Homo sapiens: one gene and its partner. The protein of the gene in region 1 purifies or fractionates together with the protein of each later gene. This does not show direct contact. Each region holds a gene or a part of one and is shown on either strand. Other genes may lie near its edges.

What was found. The genes of interacting proteins can lie anywhere in the genome.
Region 2: the proteins of OPRL1 (region 1) and SLC25A14 purify together in Homo sapiens (affinity purification with mass spectrometry; one large-scale study listed by BioGRID and IntAct). This does not show direct contact.

Annotation. Positions count from the first base shown.
Region 1 is NC_000020.11:64,086,582-64,090,081, reverse strand, and holds part of OPRL1 (nociceptin receptor), read right to left. Parts: coding exon of another isoform or gene 3,483-3,500; intron 458-3,482; exon of another isoform or gene 323-457; intron 1-322.
Region 2 is NC_000023.11:130,360,419-130,363,918, forward strand, and holds part of SLC25A14 (brain mitochondrial carrier protein 1 isoform 1 precursor), read left to right. Parts: intron 1-3,500. UniProt on the Homo sapiens protein: Transports inorganic anions (sulfate, sulfite, thiosulfate and phosphate) and, to a lesser extent, a variety of dicarboxylates (e.g. malonate, malate and citramalate) and, even more so, aspartate and glutamate and tricarboxylates.

The DNA.
Region 1 (3,500 bases):
GACACCTTTGGGAACAGGCAGACACAGACCAAGGCCCTCCGACACCCAGAGGACACACACATGCACAAACACGCTCTCCAGGCAAAGCTCGAGGGTGAGCCCCCTGACCTCAGGAGCCGAGAGGGGGCAGGAATCCAGGCAGGCTCGGACTCCTGCAGCCCTCCGCCCCAGCTGGGCTCACCAACGTCTGAGCAGGAGACCCTAGACCCTCCTACCCGAGCTTCCTGAGCCTGCCTCCCAGCCTGGGACCCAGCCTGGGCACTGTAGGCACTGAGGGTGGGCAGAGCAGAGACCTCGTAAGGGAAGGACAAAGGAGCCCAACCTGATGTCCCCGGACCAGGAACCAGTGTCAGAGGCCAGGGCAGAGTGTGGGACACAAGCACCTCATCCCTGCTACTGCAGACACCTCTCCCTTCGCATGTCTGTCTTCCACCTGGGTCACCCCACAGCTTCCTCCCTACAGGCAGAGACAGGGAGGATGAGGGGTTGGGATGGGGAGGAGGAGGAAAGGGAAAGGAGTGGGGAGGAAGTATGGAGAGATCAAGAGAGAGGATGGGTAAGGAAGGATGGGAGAAGAGGGAGGAAAACACGCTGGGGATAGGAGGACAGGAAGAAAGGAGGGGGGACGAGGTCAGACCTAGCTCCCTGACCCCCACCTCTTTTGACCCCAAGCCTTCTCACCCAGCAATAGCAACCAGCCACCTGCACCCCCACCAAGGCAGCTCCCAGCTCTGCCTTGCCTGGCCTTTCAGGAGTCAATAGAGACCTCAACTCCCTCTGTGGGAGCCGTTCAGGGTCCAGCAGAAGGCCGTGGCCTCCCCAGTCCAGGTGTTCACAATCTCATAATGTGTTCCCTTGAACTTCTTGTGTGTTCTGTGTCATTCTGCCCTGACATGTTCATAACCATAGAACCCAGGACAGCTTCTCCCTCCCTTGTGCCTGCGGCAAACCCCCAGCACAGACCCTGGCATGCTGAACAGCCTAGGCCCCCTGCGCAGAACCTGCCCCCCACCCACATAGACCCCTAGCCCACGGTACAGACCTTGCCCCCTGCATTGACCCTGCGCACCTGCCTGCACACAACCTGTCCCCCCTGCAAAGATCCTGCCCCCTTGCAAAGACCCTGGCCACTCTGCACAGATCCTACCCCTTGCACAGATCCTGGCCACTCTGCACAGACCCTGGCCACTCTGCACAGACCCTGGCCACTCTGCACAGACCCTGCCCTCCCTGCACAGATCCTGCCCTCCCTGCACAGATCCTGGCCACTCTGCACAGATCCTGGCCACTCTGCACAGATCCTACCCTCCCTGCACAGATCCTGGCCACTCTGCACAGATCCTACCCCTTGCACAGATCCTGGCCACTCTGCACAGACCCTGGCCTCCCTGCACAGATCCTGGCCACTCTGCACAGATCCTGGCCTCCCTGCACAGATCCTGGCCACTCTGCACAGATCCTGGCCACTCTGCACAGATCCTACCCCTTGCACAGATCCTGGCCACACCTGCAAAGATCTAGTGCCCCCAAAACCTGGCACAGACCGTGCCCCCACCCCACATAGATGCTATCCCCGTGCGTAGATCTTGGTCCCTCTGTACAGATCCTGCCCTCCCTGGACGGGTCCTGTCCCCCGACTCCCTTGAACAGACACTGACTCCCAATGTAGATCCTACCCACTGCACAGATCCTGGCCCCACTGCAAAGATCCTGCACGCTGCACAGATCCTGTTACCCCCTAAAAGTCCTCCCCGCAGAGACTCCTGCCCCCATGCAGAGATCCTGGCCTCAATGCACAGATCCTGGCCCATGTGCAGATTCTGGCCCCTTGCATGGATCCTGCCCCACCCCAGCCAGCTCCAGTCCTACCTCCTCCAAGAAGCCTACCCCAGGACCCCCAGCCCTGGGAACCTTCCTAACTTGGCCATTATTCAGTAATACGGCTGCCAGGCTAGGCCTGTGAGCTCTGGTCTCAGCAGATATCCTCTGAGAGTGTGGTCAGCAGAGCCCCGCAGGAGGCAGGCACCTGGCCCCTCACAGGCGCAGTCTTAGAGTGAAAGACAGGCCTGGTCACCTGGCTAGGGGATTGGCCAGGTGTGACACTGACAGTGCTCCCTGGGGTTGGCAGGGGCCCAGCCCTGGACCCAGAAACGCTCCCACGGAGGAGAACTGGTGGTGCAGATGAAATGGCCCAGGTATCTCTAGACCCCTAATAGAGTCCTGCCCTCCCCCAACCTGCCAAGGGTGGGGTGGTCCCTCCAGAAGGGGGAAGGTAGAATCAGGGTCCTATATAGAACATATATGTTACACAAGAGATAGCAAGAGGCACATGTTATATGAGAGAGCAAGACAACCTCAAACACACATGTTCTGGGCAGGCGAAACAATATGCAAGGATACTAGGGATAGCCCAAGACACGAACGATGACACGCGAATGACAGCACAGAGCTTGTGTGCGAGGATACTAGGGATAGCCCAAGACACGAACGATGACACGCGAATGACAGCACAGAGCTTGTGTGCGAGGATACTAGGGATAGCCCAAGACACGAACGATGACACGCGAATGACAGCACAGAGCTTGTGTGCGAGGATACTAGGGATAGCCCAAGACACGAACGATGACACGCGAATGACAGCACAGAGCTTGTGTGCGAGGATACTAGGGATAGCCCAAGACACGAACGATGACACGCGAATGACAGCACAGAGCTTGTGTGCGAGGATACTAGGGATAGCCCAAGACACGAACGATGACACGCGAATGACAGCACAGAGCTTGTGTGCGAGGATACTAGGGATAGCCCAAGACACGAACGATGACACGCGAATGACAGCACAGAGCTTGTGTGCGAGGATACTAGGGATAGCCCAAGACACGAACGATGACACGCGAATGACAGCACAGAGCTTGTGTGCGAGGATACTAGGGATAGCCCAAGACACGAACGATGACACGCGAATGACAGCACAGAGCTTGTGTCCACAGATTAAAGCCTGACACAGGCTGCTCTTGGAGCTCCTGGGTATTTGGGCAGGCCTGGGTTCCGGGGTGAGATTCACACCCACTCAGCAGGCAAATACACACACCTCACTCTCATCCAGTGACTCAGAATCAGCAAACGCCAGACGGCAGCTGGAACACTGTCTTTTGTCCTCCCCACTCCCACCCCCAGGGCAGGCACAGTCTACCCTCCTCCTTCCACAGGCTCACCACCCTGGGCTGGCCAAGAACAGGAATCAAGGCAGAGGGTCTGGCAGCCCCTCACAGAGCAGCCATCCCCCAGGGAAGCCAGTCACCAGGCCGCACATTTGTGCTATTAAAAAAGTGAAAGAATTTTTAACAATTCTGAGTTTCATCAAAATAAATTACTTTGTCCTTGTGATTTTAACTTTACAAAATCTATATACAATGACAAAAAAAATTGAGTTGTAGCTTCTCAATATCATGTTAAATTTTGTAGTCATTAATAAAGCTTACTAATTTGACTTGAAGTTT
Region 2 (3,500 bases), on another chromosome or scaffold:
GGTGCCAAGTTTGATTATTTGGTAAGATGACGTCCACCAGATCTCGCCATTGTAAAACATAAGTTTTTTCCCCCTCCTTTGCAATTAGCAAGTAATCTGTGGGGTGATAATATTCTAGTAATATGCATATATCCTAATATCTAATCACCTTTCATCTAACTAATGGTCTTTGCATCCATTAATGGTCCTTGAGGTTTGCTTTTTGGTAACAGCAGGGTACACTTGCTTGATATGTCTAATTTAAAGCCAGAAAATAGAACTAACTAGAACTTTCTCACAAACTGATGACAAGGAACAAAAACAGAGGAATAAATAGAATTGGAGATTTTTTCACAGGAGCATAGCTACTTTATTTTTTATTGTAGTAAAAAGTAGACATAACATAAAATTTACCATCTTAACCATTTTTGATGGTTCAGTAGTGTTAATTAAGTACATTCACATTGTTGTACAACTGATCTCCAGAACTCTTTAGGTCTTATCAAACTGAAACTCTATACCCATGAAGCAACTCCCCATTTCTCCTTCCCCTAGCCCCTGGCAACCCCCATTCTCTTTTGTGTCTCTATCAATTTGACTATTATAGGTACTTCATGTAAGTGGAATCACACAATATTTATCTTTTTGTGACTGGCTGATTTTACTTAGCATGATGTTCTCAAGGTTCATCCATGTGGTAGCATGTGTCAGAATTTCTTCCTTTTTAAGGCTGAATAATATTCCATTGTATGTATATACCACATTTTGTTTATCCATTCAACCATTGATGGACATTTGAATGGCTTCTGCCTTTTGCCTATTGTGAATAATGCTGCTGGGTAAATGGGTGTGCAAATATCTTTTTTAGACCCTGCTTTCAATTCTTTTGGTTATATAGCCGAAAGTGGAATTGCTGGATTATGTGGTAAATCTATGTTTATTTTTTGAGAAACTGAACATAACTGTTTTTATGATCCAGGCTACTTACATGATCTAGGCACCTAACATAAAGAAGCAAAGTACATTGTTGAATGTATTCTTCTGAGACAGACATGTTTTATTTGCATGTTAAAAATACAGGACTTACTTTTTCATTTCAACAAGAAAATATGTTTGCATTTTTCTTCAAACGTGCTCATCTTTGTTTATCTTCCTGCTCTGATTGTAACATGAATACTGAAAACATTTCACTTTCTTCCTAACTTCATTGTAAGAAAAAATAGCACGAGCACAATAACAAAGTATAACTAGCACTTACCACAGAGTTGGAGAGAGAGTAGCATGGTGGGGACTGTGGTCCTGGAGAGCACGGAGAGCACAGTCCCCGTTGAGAGAGGACAGCTACTCCTTAGCTCCAGCCCATTGCTGCCATGCGTTGATGGTGAGCCCGGTGTGGTCAAATTTTCTGGCCTTTCAAGAGAAGCTGGAAATCTGCATTTCTGTGTGAAATATCCTGATTTTTACATATTAACAGCCAATTCAGTCTTTTGGAAACACTGTGGGCCACTCGAAACATGCCTATAGCCTGATTTTGGCCTGTGGGCTCCAGTTTGGGGCCTTACTGTTCACCAAAGCAGTCTTCTGTGAAGGGTACCCTCTTTATGAGAAGCAGGTCAAAGAGCCAGCAAGGAAGGCACCCTTCGGCTAGCCAGCCATATCAGCACAATCAAACATCTTGGCATAGCTGTGTCACTTCCACTTCATTTTATTTATTTATTTATTTATTTATTTATTTATTTATTTATTTATTTATTTTTTGAGACGGAGTCTTGCTATGTTGCCAGGCTGGAGTGCAGTGGCGCGATCTCGGCTCACTGCAACCTCCGCCTCCTGGGTTCAAGCGATTCTCCTGCCTCAGCCTCCTGTGTAGCTGGGATTATTATTATTATTTTTTTAAGTGAAAGCAAGTTTATTAAGTAAAGGAATAAAGAATGGCTACTCCATAGGCAGAGCAGCCCCACTTTATAAATTGAGTTTGGGAACTTAGAGATGACTGAAAACTTTTTAATATAGTGGTTATCCCAGAAAGCAGATGTCCTCATGGTATGTTATTTTCAATTTTAACTGACACCTAAACACAGTTATAAAAGTAAAACATTCATTGTGAAAATGTAAAAAGAAATAGGCATAAAAATGAAAATTAACATCTCTTATCCTAATACCAGAGGAAAAAAATATTTTGATGTATTTCGTTCTAATCCTAAGAATTTGGCCTGGTGTGTATACCTTTTCCCCTGAAGATAGAATAATACTATATATAATTTTATGCCTTGCTTTATTTAACATGCTATCATGCTATCATAAGCGTTTTCTTGTGTCATTAATATTCTTCAAAAATGTGACTTTTAATGCTCTAGCAACCCTGTGTTGTAATGTGAGCTGTGATAGGAGCATCGTGCTAGTGAGTGAAACCCTGGTAATGTTACCACAGCAGGACTTGTAAGCGAAGGACCACTTTCCCTTGGCTTTTCCTCTTGCTTCTTCATACCTTTGCTGTCACCTTAGTGTTTGTCCTTTCTGCACATCTGAAAATTCTGTGAATTAAACCTGAAAGCTCTCTTCTCCCCACTGATTTTTGCTTCATGATTTTATTTATAACAGCTTTATTGGGAAAATTCACATATTATAATGATAATTCCCAAATTCTTTATTGAGATAATTCACATAAAATTCACCATCTTTAAAGTATACGATTTAATTGTTTCTAGTATATTCACAGATTAGTGCAGCCATTACCACTGTCTAAGTTTAGAACATTTTCATTACCAAAAAGAAACCCTTACCCTTTACCCATCACTTCTCATTTCCCCCAGCCCTCCTAGCTGTGGACAACCACTAATCTACTTTCTGTCTCTATAGATTTACCTGTTCTAGGTATTTCATGTAAATGGAATCACGCAATATGTAGACTTTCGTGACTGGCTTCTTCCATTTAGCATACTGATTTTAAGGTTTATCCATGTTGCAGCATGTATCAGTACTTTATTCCTTTTTATGGGTGAATATTAATTCCATTGTGTGGGTATACCACATTGTATTTGTCCCTTCATCAATTAATGAGCATTTGGGTTCTTTGCACATTTTGGCTATTATGAATACTGCTATGAACATTTCTGTACACATTTTTGTATGAACATCTATTTTCAGTTCTCTTGGGTATATACCTAGGTGTAGAATTGCTCGCTCATATGGTAATCTGTGTTTAACTTTTTGAGGAAGTGCCAAATTGTTTTCCACAGTGGCTGCCCCATTTTACATTCCCACTGACAGCATATAAGGGTTCCTATTTCTTCACATCCTCACCAACACTTGCTCTTTTACTTTTTCTTTCTTAATTTTTTTAAATTTTTTTTTGAGGCAGGATCTTGCTGTGTTGCCCAAGCTGGAATGCAGTGGTGCAATCATGGCTCACTGCAGCCTCAGCCTCCCAGGCTCGGGTGATCCTCCCACCTCAGCATCTCAAGTAGCTGGGACTACAGGCACATGCCACCATGCCTGGCTAATTTAAAAAATTTTTTTAA